Homo sapiens: one gene and its partners. The protein of the gene in region 2 purifies or fractionates together with the protein of the main gene of each other region. This does not show direct contact. Each region holds a gene or a part of one and is shown on either strand. Other genes may lie near its edges.

Evidence for each region. Proteins that work in one complex are often made in the same cells at the same time.
Region 1: the proteins of PAK6 (region 2) and AHCYL2 purify together in Homo sapiens (affinity purification with mass spectrometry, with the first as the bait; one large-scale study listed by BioGRID). This does not show direct contact.
Region 3: the proteins of PAK6 (region 2) and MTHFD1 purify together in Homo sapiens (affinity purification with mass spectrometry, with the first as the bait; one large-scale study listed by BioGRID). This does not show direct contact.
Region 4: the proteins of PAK6 (region 2) and CNOT1 purify together in Homo sapiens (affinity purification with mass spectrometry, with the first as the bait; one large-scale study listed by BioGRID). This does not show direct contact.

The regions. Positions count from the first base shown.
Region 1 is NC_000007.14:129,389,030-129,392,529, forward strand, and holds part of AHCYL2 (adenosylhomocysteinase 3), read left to right. Parts: intron 1-26; coding exon 27-170; intron 171-604; coding exon 605-705; intron 706-3,500. UniProt on the Homo sapiens protein: May regulate the electrogenic sodium/bicarbonate cotransporter SLC4A4 activity and Mg(2+)-sensitivity. On the contrary of its homolog AHCYL1, does not regulate ITPR1 sensitivity to inositol 1,4,5-trisphosphate.
Region 2 is NC_000015.10:40,245,563-40,249,062, forward strand, and holds part of PAK6 (serine/threonine-protein kinase PAK 6), read left to right. Parts: intron 1-3,500. UniProt on the Homo sapiens protein: Serine/threonine protein kinase that plays a role in the regulation of gene transcription. The kinase activity is induced by various effectors including AR or MAP2K6/MAPKK6.
Region 3 is NC_000014.9:64,391,353-64,394,852, reverse strand, and holds part of MTHFD1 (C-1-tetrahydrofolate synthase, cytoplasmic), read right to left. Parts: intron 1-3,500. UniProt on the Homo sapiens protein: Trifunctional enzyme that catalyzes the interconversion of three forms of one-carbon-substituted tetrahydrofolate: (6R)-5,10-methylene-5,6,7,8-tetrahydrofolate, 5,10-methenyltetrahydrofolate and (6S)-10-formyltetrahydrofolate.
Region 4 is NC_000016.10:58,542,827-58,546,326, forward strand, and holds part of CNOT1 (CCR4-NOT transcription complex subunit 1), read right to left. Parts: coding exon 3,495-3,500; intron 2,666-3,494; coding exon 2,535-2,665; intron 1,078-2,534; coding exon 781-1,077; coding exon of another isoform or gene 559-780; exon of another isoform or gene 327-558; intron 1-326.

The sequences.
Region 1 (3,500 bases), on a different chromosome or scaffold from region 2:
GAGTGTTTTTTATTCTGTCATTCCAGCGGCTTCATATACAGATAGCTCTGATGATGAGACATCGCCCAGGGACAAGCAGCAAAAGAACTCTAAGGGAAGCAGTGACTTCTGTGTTAAGAACATCAAACAGGCAGAGTTTGGACGAAGAGAAATTGAAATTGCTGAACAAGGTAAAGAAAACAAGCACCTTTTCCTTCTTAACCTACCTGTGTCTTTTTGTCCATATTAATCCCTTTTTATGTCTGGGGTCTGGTAGCTTGTGAAATTTCTATGTGATAAGAATACTTATAACAAAAGAAATGTGAGTTCAAGAAACACTGGGGAAATCTGGCAAGTCTAGAAGGAACCCTGTATTAAAAAAAAAAAAAAAAAAGGGAGAGAGACTGGATAAGGACTGGAATATAGAGAATCAGAACCCTGGAGCATTTGCCTCCAAAAGCCCTTTATAAAGGAAAATACAGGTTTAATGTCTTGATCCCTGGAGAAACCTAATCTAACCTGATCAGGGGAAGGATCTTAACTTAAGAAAACAAGTTTTTCTGTTTGTTCTTTTATCTCTTATTCCTTCTTCTTTAATATTGCTGTATTTATTGGGCCTTTTCAGAAATGCCTGCATTGATGGCTTTGAGGAAGAGAGCTCAAGGAGAAAAGCCTTTGGCTGGAGCCAAAATCGTGGGTTGCACACACATCACTGCTCAGACTGCTGTGAGTTCTTTTCTTTTCTCCTTTTAATTACAATAGTTAATAATAGCCACGAGCTACTGAAAGCTTACAACATGCCAAGCACCGAGTTAAGAGCTTAACAAGTATTAGCTTATTAATCCTTATAATGGCCATATAAAGCAGGTATTCTTGTTTCCATTTTATAAACGAAGAAGCTGAGGCTCAGAGGGCTTAAGATATTTGTTTAAGGTTATACAGCTAGAAATCACAGAGTCAAGATTTTAACTTCAATATACAGTAGTCCCCCTGCCTTGTCTGTGGGGGATAAGTTTCAAGACCCCTAGTGGACACCTGAAACTTCAGACAGTACTGAACCCTATATATACTATGTTTTTTCCTATACATATATACCTATAATCAAGTTTAATTTATGCAATTGGCCCTGCATGTCCACCAGTTCTGCTTCCTGAGGATTTGACCAACTGCAGATCAAAAATATTCAGAAAATAAAATAATACAACAATACAAAATAACAAGAAATATAACAACTATTTACATAGCATTTACACTGTATTGGGTACTATAAATAACCTAGAGATGCTTTAAAATATACAGAAGGATGTGCACAGATTATATGCAAACACTGCATCATTTTATATAAGGGACATGAGCATCCTCAGATTTTGGTATCCATGGGAGTGCTGGAATAAATCCCCTGAGGATACTGAGAGACAGCTATAAATTCAGCACAGTAAGAAATGAACAACAGTAACTCAAAATAAAAGAGAGCAATTACAACAACAGACTGTAATAAAAGTTATGTCACATAAAGGAATTTATCACAGTACATAGCAGAAAGTCCAAAGGGAAGGCAGACTTCAGATGCAGGATCTCAGGGCTCCAGCTTCACCTCTCTGATTCTCTTGGAGCTGCCTCCTCAGTATGCTTACTTCACCCTAAAGCTGATAGCAAGATGCTTACAACTATTCTAGTCATCACAAACTGACATGAAAAGGAAGAGGGACCATTTCTTCCTCACTCAAGAGAAGTCCCTCCAGGATACTCCATCGTGTCTCATTGGGCAGAACTGGATCATGTATCTGTGCTCCACCAGTCCTACCGAGGGGCGTGGAATTACCATGATTTGCTTACACCAGTGATTCCTACCTTACTCTCATCAGTTTTAATGTCCCCTTTTTATTAAAAAACTTTTTTTTTGCAGTGTCCCTGAACTATCCTGAAATGAAATTCAGATATAACATGTCCAGGTACATATAATCTTTAAAAATAAATCAATATAAAATCTTAACTGAAATATGAAGGAGGAATAAAAAAAGTACAATACTTAAAATAATGTGTATTTCAATATGTAAATACTTGAGGACAACTATAGTAGAACAATCAGATATTTGTACTATTTCACAGTATTATTTGAAATAGTATTATTTGAAGACAGAAATAAATGTGTTATTGATTCCAGAGCATCAGAGCAGCATTGCCATGATTTTCTGAAATAGTAAACAACTTTTTGTAATCTTCTAAACAATAAGAACAACAAAAAGTATGAGTTTTCTCTTCATTTACATAGCTGTTACATTCCTGGAAAAACTATTGTTTTGTATTAAAACTACAAAACTACTTTTTGCTAATTTGTAAAGTGGAATTAGGTTCTAAACTCAGATAATTGTAGATAGGTTTTTCACCCATGGGAACTTTTATTGGGACATTTGAAAATTGTACCAGCTGCAACACAGTTTTTTGTTGAGACACTTTCAAAATGTCCAGATTCCTGGTCCTGCCCACTAAATGCCAATAGCACTCCCCTTCCAATTATTGTGGCAACCAAAAATGCCCCCACAATTTTCTAGATCTCCTCTTTTATCACCAGAGATGCAATATATATGGAGTTGCTAACCATAATGAGACCACTATCGGGAAATTGTTATATTGAGCAGTGGTCTGGAATCTTTTATGGGGATTCATAAGATCTGGGTCATCTGTGTGGCTAGATCAGCTTTCCAAAGATTGTCTCTCCCAAAGCACAACACTTATGTGGTCACATTCCTGATTAAGAACATTAGAGATTCCTCAAGGTACAGACAGCTTCTATTAGCATCTTCACTATGAAACTTTTCTGGGTTATGTGTTCTCTGAGGACAAGAGTACCCTGACTGCTCAAAATTAATATAATAAATTGAAAAGCTATCTGTTTTGGAGCTACAAACTAATGAATCAAGACAGAAACACTCTTGAATCTTTTTTGGCCTGCTCAGTCAGCGACATGAGACTTCAGTGTGGTAGCTTAAAATAGTAAGTGCTTCTCTACTGTCTCATGTTGCTGAATTACATCTAGTTTGTTTTTTACCCTTAGGCTCAGTGAGCATTACCACCTTTCATGGTTCCCTTTCTATTTTTTTCCTGAATGGATTGATCACAATTAGCTTACCAATTTTAATATTAATTTATTGTTTCCACCCCACATTTTTTTCCTTTAAAAAAATAACGACAAAGAAATTATGCTTTGTTTGCCAACCTAATACTCTTTCACTCTTGTCTTAGTTCATTTGGGCTGCTATAACAAAATACCTTAGACTGGGTAATTAATAAACAATAGATATTTATTGTTCACAGTTCTGGAGGCTAGGAAGTCCAAGATCAAGGCGCCAGCAGATTCAGTATCTGGTGAGGGCCTGTTCCTTATAGATGGCGCTTTCTATGTGCCCTCACATGGCCAAAGGGGCAAGCAAGCTTCCTCAGGCTTGTTTTATAAGTACACTAATCCCATTTGTGAGGGCAGAAATCTCATGTCTAATCACCTTCCAATCACTTCCATAATC
Region 2 (3,500 bases):
CTCAGATCAGCAAAGAGGAGCTCTGAGGAGGAAAAGGCTGCCCCAGGAAAGAGCTGGCCATCTCAGATTGCTGTAGCACATTCAAGCCAAAGGGAGTCCCCGGAGGATGTTTCGTCCAGCCCCCATAATTTTAGAGCGGGAAACAGAGGTCCAGAGAAGGAAAGTGGGTCCTGAGGCCACACAGCTAACTAATGGCAGAGTCAGTTTCCAGCCCAGGGATCCCCAGCTGCCTGCCCAGCACTCTTGCTACCCAGGCTGAACCCCCACCCCCGTGCTACCAAGGGGCCCATGCAGGAGCAGGCAGCAGCCACTGGGTAACTTGATGGCTTGGGAGAGGCGGCCTGGCCTGACACATTGGGAGGCTGGGCAGGTCCCCGCTTTGCTCCTATTGTGCTATTTGGGTGCCTCCTGCCATCCCCCTGCATTCTGCTAGACCTGAAACCACAGCCCAGCCCACGCTTGTCAGTCAAGTGCTTCCCGAGGATAAACTTTGCACACAGCACCCAGGCCACTCTTGGGGACCAGGCCACTCTCTGTTGAAGAGATCTAACTAATTTATAAATTGATTGATTGAAGTTCTTTTTGTCCCAGGTAACTTCATGTCTTAGGCCAAAGAAGGGAGTCATGATGAGTGCCAGAGATGAAACGGAGATTCTGGGGCAAAGGGTAGGGGAGGCACCTGGGAGGCCCTGTTCTTCAGGTGATCTTCTCATTAGTGTAGACTTTTGACCCCAGGCAGACATTTACATGTCCAATAGCCACCATCAGAGGTCAGTTCCCAGAAGCAGGAGGCCTGTCACTTGCCACCGGTCACCAGGCCCAAGCTAGACAAGAAGACTTTTTCTATTCCACTAGAGTGGATCTTGCTGATGATGTGTCTGGGATCCAGAAAGGTGGGGAGAAGTAGAGGTCTCAGCTCCTGGGGAGGGATGGAGCCAGCCCCGGGGGAAGAATGCAAGGCCGCCAGTGAGCAGGCATTCAGGGCTCCTGTCGAGGAGAGGGTGGTCAGGACAGGAGGAGGGGCTGCCTCATGGATGATGAGGTCCATCATCCTAGCAGAGGCTGTTGTACCAGCCACTGACGAGGGTGTGGCAGTGGTGTTACCAGAACCCTGCTATGTCAGCGTTCAAATACATGTCCCAGCAGGCCAACCACCCCTGCAGCAGTCAAGGGGTTCTGTCCGGTGTGTGCCAGAATGCTAGGGAAGAGAGGACCCTGAGAAGGATGGCAGCATGGCACAGACACGCCATGTGGCAGTTAGACAGGTCATGCCTTCTGACCCAGGGCACATGCAGAGGTCCACAGACTCTGAGGCCAGCTAGTTAGTGTTCCCAGGGGGCTGCACAGCCCAGAGCCTGTGAGTTTTGTGCATCTGGAGCTAAGGTGTTCTGCCCAAAGTGTTGGAGGTGGGCCTCAGGCAACAAATACCCTGCTTCCTCACATCCCCTTTTCTTCCTTGGAGCTTGGGCCTGGGCCCTCACCTAGTCAGGCACAGGCCTCCACTCCCCCACACTCACCTGTCCTTCCTGAAAGTCAGCCACTGGGCTCCACGCAGGGGTGTCACAGTCAGAGCCCTGCTCCAGCCTCAGACCTGGGGCAGTCACTGGAAACTCAGAAGAGAGAAGACAAGACAATGAAAGTTTCCCATTCAAGGAGGCATCCAGCTGTTAGTTCTGCCAGCAAAAATGCCAGCCAGAGAGCTAAACTGCCAGCAAAAGATATTTGGATGGAACTTTGGAGGCCATTAAGAGCAGGCACTGCAAAGCAATTGTAGCGAAAAGATATTAAATGAATCCATCACGTCTCTAAAATGAGTGTCCTTACCACAGATCTGGCTCTTGCTGTTCCCCAGCCCTTCCCAGGGTAGCCCAGGATGCACCTGGGACGGGCGCCGCAGCCTGCAATGGTCCCTGCATCTGAGGAGCTCCTCCCAGGTCACCAGGCTCCTTGGGACTGTCAGGCAGGTTTAGCCCCCAGTGTCAGCTTGTGTTTGGGGAGGATGGTTTTATATATTCTCGTTGGCACAGGAAGCCTAGTACAGATGCAGAACCTGAGGGAAAGGCAGGCAGAGAGAGAGAGGCTCGAGGTTCTGCTGAGGCCCAGGGTATCAGCAGGGCACATCTGTACAGCAGCCGGGCGGGGACCCATGGACTTTTCCAAAACACCTAACCAGGCCCTAGACAGTGCTACCCCCTGGCGCTGGGCTCTCTTTCCGGAACCCGGGGTGAACAGACCTGTTGGGTTGATTTAGTAGCAAGTGGTAGCCTTGTTTTCTGGACGAATCCTGGGATTCTACTCCATGGCACATCAAACCAAGCTCCAGTGTGCATGCCCAGGGTCGGGGAGGGGAGCTTTCTCCTTGGTCCCTTCTGCAGCTGTGAGGGCTGAGGGTTAAGAACCTTTCACCCCGTTTGGGGGTGCTGCTCCTCCATAGCCCTGTACCCCAATGCTCTAGACTTCATTATTCCACCACCTTCCCCAGGGCGGGAGGTACTCTTTCCATTACATGCATCAGGAAACTGAGGCCAGAGACATGCTGTAAGTCTTGCGAGGCAAGAGGGCTCCCGTCCGCAGGACTCCATGGCTCTGCAGCTAGACTCCGTCAACTTCCCTCCTGCCTGGGGACCCCAAGGGCCTGGCAGTGTCAGCTCCCTCGGCTCACACTTCCAGATGCTCGGAGGTTCAGAGGTTTGCACCTCCCTCTTGGTCCCATCAGCAGAGAGAGATGGGTGGTCCCATCAGGGTGAGGAGCAGGAAGAAGCAGGTGCTGGACAGCCTGGAGGAGAGGGGGAGGAAGGGATTTTCTCCCAAGAGTGCCTCTCTCCCAGGCTTCGGGCTCCAGGGTGAGTGGGCAGCGACCCCTCTAGGAGCCCCAGCTCCACAGGGCTCCTCCTGCCAAGCATCCAGCACACGTGCCCCCACCTCCCCGGCAGGTCCTGCTTGAGGGCCTGAGGCGACTGGGCCATCTGGGTCTGTGAAGGGCAGATGTGGGATGCAGGAACTTCAGGCAGGGTGCTGGCTTGTGGCCAGGAAAGCCTAGCACCTGATTCCTAGCAGGGAACTCAGTGACAGAGTGGGGGAACCTGAGGGCCCCTCTGCCCCTCACACCCAGTGCCATGTGGGGGTCCTCGCGTGTTACACAGAAATAGGAAGGGACGGTCCTCCTACCCGCACCCCAGCCCTCTTGTGTCTCACGTGACAGCCTGCCTGGGCAGTGATTTTTTTAAAACACAAATGCCTTATATTAAGGTCTGAGTTGGTCTCTCCCCACTGCCCGTTCAAACATTCCATGGCACCAGCAGCCTCTAAGCAGCAGAGTTGAGAGAACCAGCTTTGGGGTCGGATACACTTCCGTTCAAATTCCAGCTCCTCCCCTCAGTAACTGGCTTACTTAGTCTTTCTGGACTGGATAACAAAATACTATGGACTGGTGGCTTATAAACAACAGAAATTTATTTCTCACAGTTCTGGAAGCTGAGAAGCCCAAGAGCAAGGTGCTG
Region 3 (3,500 bases), on a different chromosome or scaffold from region 2:
CTTGTAATGAGAAAAGCCTCACAAGGACCTGGCCTTCCTGCTTTTCAAAAAGACTGAACAAAACCTTAGGTAGAAAAGGTTAGGTCTAAAAGGCTGCTTACTAAGGAGGGACTGGTATTTGGGCACCTAAACCCAAAGATCACTTATAATGTTAAGTCATTCATTGCAGTCAAGATTAAGTTCCTGACAGGCTCTGGCAAAACCTTTCACAGAAATGCTCCCTTATCTCCTGGGACCTCTCAAGCACCAGATACCAAGCAGTACGTCTCCCGTCCAGGCTTGTGGTGAGGGGCAAAGAAAAAAAAAAAGCTTAGCCAGCAAAGTAAGTAGGTCTGACCTGTCTCTAACCAGTCAAAATTGGACTATAACTTCAAAAATGACTTTTTGAAGAGAATCTGTTTGGGTGCTTCCCAACCAGACTGATGGGTGGAATGATTTCCTCACAATGGAAAGGCCTCAGGGAGAACCAAACCCAGGGTGTCTCCTGCTGGAGGGTAGAAGTTTGCAATTCCTTCTAGCAAGCCAATGACAAGCCCATGGTAGGGAAAGAAATGCACCATCGAGCCTCTGCCACCTACCTTGGAACACCTGGGCAAGTCACTTAGCTTCTGGCTAAAGTGTCATAAACTGCAAAATTGAGGGTAAGGGTAGTAGCCGAGTGGCTGAGGAATCTTGACTGTGGCACCTTTAGCCACCCACTTCTTCAAGGTCAAGGATTTACAGGGTGACAGAAGCTGCTTTTTGGTCAATTAAGGGGTGCAAAGGAGAGCCAACCGCACAGTGCAGGGGTAATGGGGGCCTTCTGCACTGTGGATGGGACGTCAAAGAAGCTTGTTTTGAGAGTCTTACATTCTTTTAATCCTTGGGGCAACGTCAGGAAGTAGACAGTTCTCATCATCCCTACTGCACAGAAAGGAAAGTGAAGCTAACTTTTCCAAGGCCACACAAGCATCCCTGCCCCTTAACCTCTATTCTACCAACCTCTACTGAGTCAATTAGAGGAGAAGGGAGCCATTTGCTTCCACTCCAAGGACCCTCCTCTGTACTAGGCCAGCTTTCCTTCTAGAAGATTCTTCATGCAAATAGGGGATGTAACAGGGAACCACAGACCTCTGCTCAAAACCCCACTACCCAAATCCCAAACTGCCTGATCCCAACTCCCCTGATGGACAAGGACAGACACTTATTTGCAAACCACATCCCCAATCAGGTGCCATGACCATAGTAGTTGGCTGCCAGCTCTGGGCTCTGCTGCACTATCGCTGCAACCTGCCCAACAGCCTGGCTGGGGTCCTAGCTGAAGGTCCCAGCCTCTCTGGAACTCCGACCTCTCCTGCACAGGCTTCCAGAATCAATCCAGCTATGACAGTCAAGTTTCCATGTAACTTTTGAGCAACCTGCACTTTGGAGTTCATTACAGGCAAATTTTTTTTTTTTTTCTTTCTGAGATGAAGTTTTGCTCTTGTTGCCCAGGCTGGAGTGCAATGGCGCCATCTTGGCTCACTGGCTCACTGCAACCTCCTCCTCCCAGGTTCAAGCCATTCTCCTGTCTCAGCCTCTGGAGTAGCTGGGATTACAGGCATGGGCCACCATGCCCAGCTAATTTTGTATTTTTAGTAGAGATGGGGTTTCACCATGTTAGTCAGGCTGGTCTCCAACTCCTGATCTCAGGTGATCCTCCTGCCTGGGCCTCCCAAAGTCCTAGGATTACAGGCATGAGCCACCACGCCCTGCCCAGACAAATCTTTTTAAGCACAAAAGGGCCTACATGTATTTAATCTACAGGACAAAGTAAAAGTCTTATCCATGTTAACTTAGTAACCAAGAAGACCTGCCCTTCACTATGGTAAGCAAATTATTTTCACAAAAACAGTTCTTCTAGCCCTGTAGCTAAATGTACAGCCAAGGTTCCAAACTTTTATCTTTGATCACTAGGATAAATTCTAATTTTAAGTCTCAAGATTATAAGCCAGCTCCCAAAGGTACAGCCTGGATAAACACAAACATCACTTTTTTATTCAATGAGTACTTTCTAAGTACCTATTTATTAAAACTTACCATGTACCAACAACTTCTCTAAATGCTTTATAGGTATTAAACTCATTTAATTCTAACAACCTTATGAGTTAGGTGACATTACTACCCCAATATACAGAAGCTAAGGCACAGAGGTAAATTGCATGACCCAGTGATGCACAGAGGAGGCAGCACCGTGCTTAGGCTCTGGAGCTACCATCCACAGCGAGCTTACAAATATACCCAACTTGCCCTGCACTTGGCCAGCAAACACTCGCAGCACCTACTCAAACCATCTGCCTCTTCACAACCAGTCTCTTTAGAAAGGAGACTTAATCAAGAAAAATGCCACCAATGGAGAGAGCAGGCTTAATTATAGCAAACTAAGGGAAGGAAAAACCAAACAAATCATATAAATGTAGTAAGCCCCCCTTTGAAAGGCCCACTTATAGAACAACTATGCTTTCTTGCCTACAAAGCAAGGTGGGTCTTCCAACACTAATGCACATCCTTCTCCCACTTTGCATAATCTTTTAAAAGACACCACCCTTCTGCCCAGGGCAGGGTCAGGTTCCTCTACTCAGGAGCCTCCACTCGGTCAGCTTCTCACAGGGCCATTGCCATTGACCCCCCAAAGCAGTAAGTTAGTAACTGGTGAGGACAAAGGTCTATGGCACAGGCTGTGTTTTTGGTCAGGAGCTATTTCCCTCACAACATTGGCAGGCTTAAGGCTCCACCTCCTTCAAGTCTTTGCCCGTAAGTCACTTTTACAAAGACTATGACTCCCATATTTAAAATTGCAGCCACCATACCACAGAAACTCCTGTCCCTCTTTTCTGCTCTGGTGTTCTCTTTGTGCTTCCCACCAGCTCACAATGTGTTTCACCTATTTAAATGTCTGTCTCTACCCATCAGTATGCAAGTTTCATGAGGGTAGGGATTTGGGCTGTTTTGTTCACTATTAGACTCTCAGAGCTTTGAAGATTGCCTGGCTTAGGGGACACATACAGCTACTTGTTGAGTAAGTGAATAAATACCCACAAAGAACAGATACTTGTCTCTAACTCTCAGACCTTCCCCCGGTTGTCAAATTCAGGCTGCAAACTTAGAATTCCCCGTGAGGGAGAAAAGGGGCTGTTACTTCCAAAGAAAGATAATTTGGCAACTAAATCCATCATGTAAGTACCCAGTTTCCCACAGAGTAGAGCAGGTAGAGAAGGAATCTGGAATGCTGAACTTTGTTGATGTCCGAGCTCCCAGGAAGGCATAAAAGGAGAATAATAATAGAAGAGGACGAGTCAGGGATAGCATTCTCAGCAGGGTGGGAAACATGCTAATGAGAGGAAGACTGTAAAGAAAAAGCAAAGCGCCAGCGGGGGCGCAGTGGCTCACACCTGTAATCCTAGCACTTTAGGAGGTGGAGGTGGACAGATCACTTGAGGTCAGGAGTTCAAGACCAGCTTGACCAACATGGCGAAACCCCA
Region 4 (3,500 bases), on a different chromosome or scaffold from region 2:
ACACCTCTAATCCCAGCACTTTGGGAGGCCAAGGCAGGTAGATCACTTGAGGCCAGGAGTTTGAGACCAGCCTAGCCAACATGGTGAAGCCACTTCTCTACTAAAAAAATACATAAATTAGTGGGGCGTGGTAGCACATGCCTGTAATCCCAGCTACTTGGGAGGCTGAAGCACGAGAATCAGTTGAACCTCAGAGGTGGAGGATGCAGTGAGCCAAGACTGCACCACTGTACTCTAGCCTAAGCTACAGAGTGAGACCCTGTCTCATGAAACATTAAAAAAAAGGCAAAAAACAACCAAAAAAAATCATTAAAGCAGTAAACAAATTATTAATCATGATACCTGAATTATTAACCATGATATCTGAGACTCAAAACTAGTAAGTGAATTATTTGAAAAGTGTGTGCACATGCAACATCACTTTAAGTCATTTTGTATCGGCCTTCTCAAACAGCTTTCATCCTTCCTGGTTAACAGAAATGAGATTGTCAGATATCACATTTCCTTTTTAAATCTTAATTTATTTAAACCAACAAATATTTGGGTATCTACTATCTGTCAAACATCGTGTTGAGAATATAACAGAAAAAAAAAAAAACACACAGACATGATGCTTTGCCTCACAGAATTACAATCTAAAATGATGGAAGACATCAAACAAATATGGTGATTATTAAGAATAAGTGGTAACGCCCAGTGCCATATATAGACAAAGAAAAAAATTATTACAGACAAGCAGTAATACGTTTTGTACCTATACCAAGGAAATAGCCAACTTACACGAAGGGCTGAGGCAAAACTGTTTTTTAAGTTGGTAGATATGCTCATGAGCAAAGGTTCCCTGCATGTAATCATAGCCATTCCAGCTGTCAAGTTACGCATCATGTGATGAGCTGCTATTCGCATTCGAGATTCCTCCGAATCCAGGGCAAAATCCTTCCTGACTATTTGCTCACAAGTAGTCATGGCAATCTTAATTGATCGATCCACCACAGGATGGACCAGCTCCTGGACAGCCCGTTCAATTGCCTGACGCACACACTGCTTCAACTGTGGATGGGCCTGAAACAAGGGAATCTGGGGGGTTGGGGAGGACAAAGTCAACACCTTGTTTAAATAAGACAATCCAATTCCTACTGGCAATCACATTCATGATTTTGTAAATCAAGATTAACCAAAAACTACCAGTTTCTACTTAAAGTTAACCAATGGAAAATTCGGGTAACAGAAACTGAGCTCCATACAGGGAAATGTATTCAGTATACCCTGTGATACACAATAATAGATATGTCTTTTTTTTAAATCCAAGTTTAATGGACAAACTGTTCATTACAATATGCATTAACTACTTAAAGACACACTGCTGGCTTATTTAAAATTTGTGGCTCAAGTGCTCTTAAAAGAAAGCAACTTCTCCACTAGCTTGGGAAAATGTAAAAAGAATAAAGTTTATAGAAAAAAGACTTCTTACAAAAACTATTAAAATTAATTCATCAGAATAGTGAGCATTTTACAGTGCCCACTGAAGTATTTGGCTTCATTTGAAAGGCTGTTTCTAATCTTTTATTGCAGGTGTAAATTATGCCCCAAAACTTACTTGGTCCCTTTAACTTGTTGAATTAAAAAAAAAAAAAATTAAACTAGCATATAATAGTGTTCACAACACTAAGAGTATTCTAAAGATGAATCACAATTTCTGGATCTAGGTGTCCCACTGCCTCTCACTCCACCCCTCTAAAACTAAGTACCATGTCTATAGGAGTGGGGATGGGGGGACAAGGATAAAATGATTTCTCTGATACCCTTTCAATTCCTTTTAATAAAAAGTTCAATGTATTAATGTTACTCTTGTATTTGTGAACATTTTCAGTTTCTAAAAAGTAAGGACAATGAAAACTCCACTCACCTGATTCTGTATTATATATTCTGTTAAGTAGAATAAAAGACTAAAGATAACAATAAAATGTCCCCTTGAATGTACAAAGCAAATACTAACTATAGGAAAAAGGACTGATCAGAGGTCATCTTACATGACCATATTGTATCAGACCTCCTTCTGGAACCAGGCCACAACAACATAACTCAAAGTGCTAAGTCCTACTTCAAGATCTTAGCCTAGAAATTGTATACACACCCACAATCAGCTCATTTCCAGCCTTCAGGTGGAAGAAATGGCTTACTGCAGAAGGCTAAAGTGACAAGATAAAGAAAATAAAAAGCTATGATATACATTAAGCATCTTTTACTCTGTGTAAGGAATTCCTGGAGATTGTGATTTTATTGCTAGCTAAATTTTAGTATCATGGGTTTGGATATGAGGAACCAATATAACTAACATCTAGTCACTCTATCTCTTAAGGGAAGAAGAACAATCCCAACTGAACTACACAGCAGTTCTAGATCTCCATCCTCTCTGACAAACTCTACAACCTAGGAATCCAGAGGGAAGGGCAAAGAGCTGAAGAAAAGGTGGCCAAACAAAATTTACCTTATCACAAACTAGAAGCTGGGAGAATGGAGCAGTGTTTACTTACTGTTGGATTCAGAGTAATGTGTGGTGCCAAGCCCGCAAGGGAATAGACATTGATGTCGTGGTAGCTGTACTGTGGCTGTGGTGGAACCGTGGCTGTACAAGTGGTGTTGGTAGCTGGTGTAGTAGAAGTTGCTAAATGTCAAGTAATAAAAAGAGATTTAAAAAGTACATTTGTTGACTTTATTATAAAATTAGCTTAATATCATTAAGTGGTCATTATCTAATTAAACGAATTAAATTGGGAGAGGAGGGAAGGATGTAGCAGGTCCTATTTTTCCCACCCTGAAAGGGAAATTCTGTTGTTATAACAGAGATATACACGAAGTATGTTAAACTATGTCAGTGCCAGTGCCCCACAGCACAGAAATCAACTGAGCAGCCATGCCATATTGTCAGGCCCAAGTCCTATAAACTTAGTCTATATTATAAATGTATGTTTTCAACCTAGCCTGTTCCTAGGTTTATCTGGGGATTCTCAGCTGCTGAGGACTGAGAAAGAAAGAAAAGCTCAATTTATTCTAACCACAACTCCCAATCATTCAACACTCCCATACCCTTCTCCCATCTTCTTCATGTAGATAAAACAGTCCCATTCCCTTGGCAGATCTAGCAGGTCTGGCCATACCCAGATTTGAGGGGTTAACAGGCCATCATAGTATGCAGTTATTTCTGGGACTTCACACAACAAAGGAGATAACCTGGCCTAGCTGGGGTATGAGAGGCAACTGATTAAATCACATTTAGTTAATAATATGCATGAACTGTCAGGATGGAATCTAAGATGGTAACACAAGGCCTAGTCATTACTTCTGCTTGATAATTAGAAGGCTCACCAAAACGTATACAAAGTTTCACCACTACATTATGTGGGAAATTATAGTTTGCGATATACATGGACAAGTACCATTTAAGATAGTATCCTAGCTAACAGAAGCCTTCCTTGACTAATTAGCACACTTACTTGTGG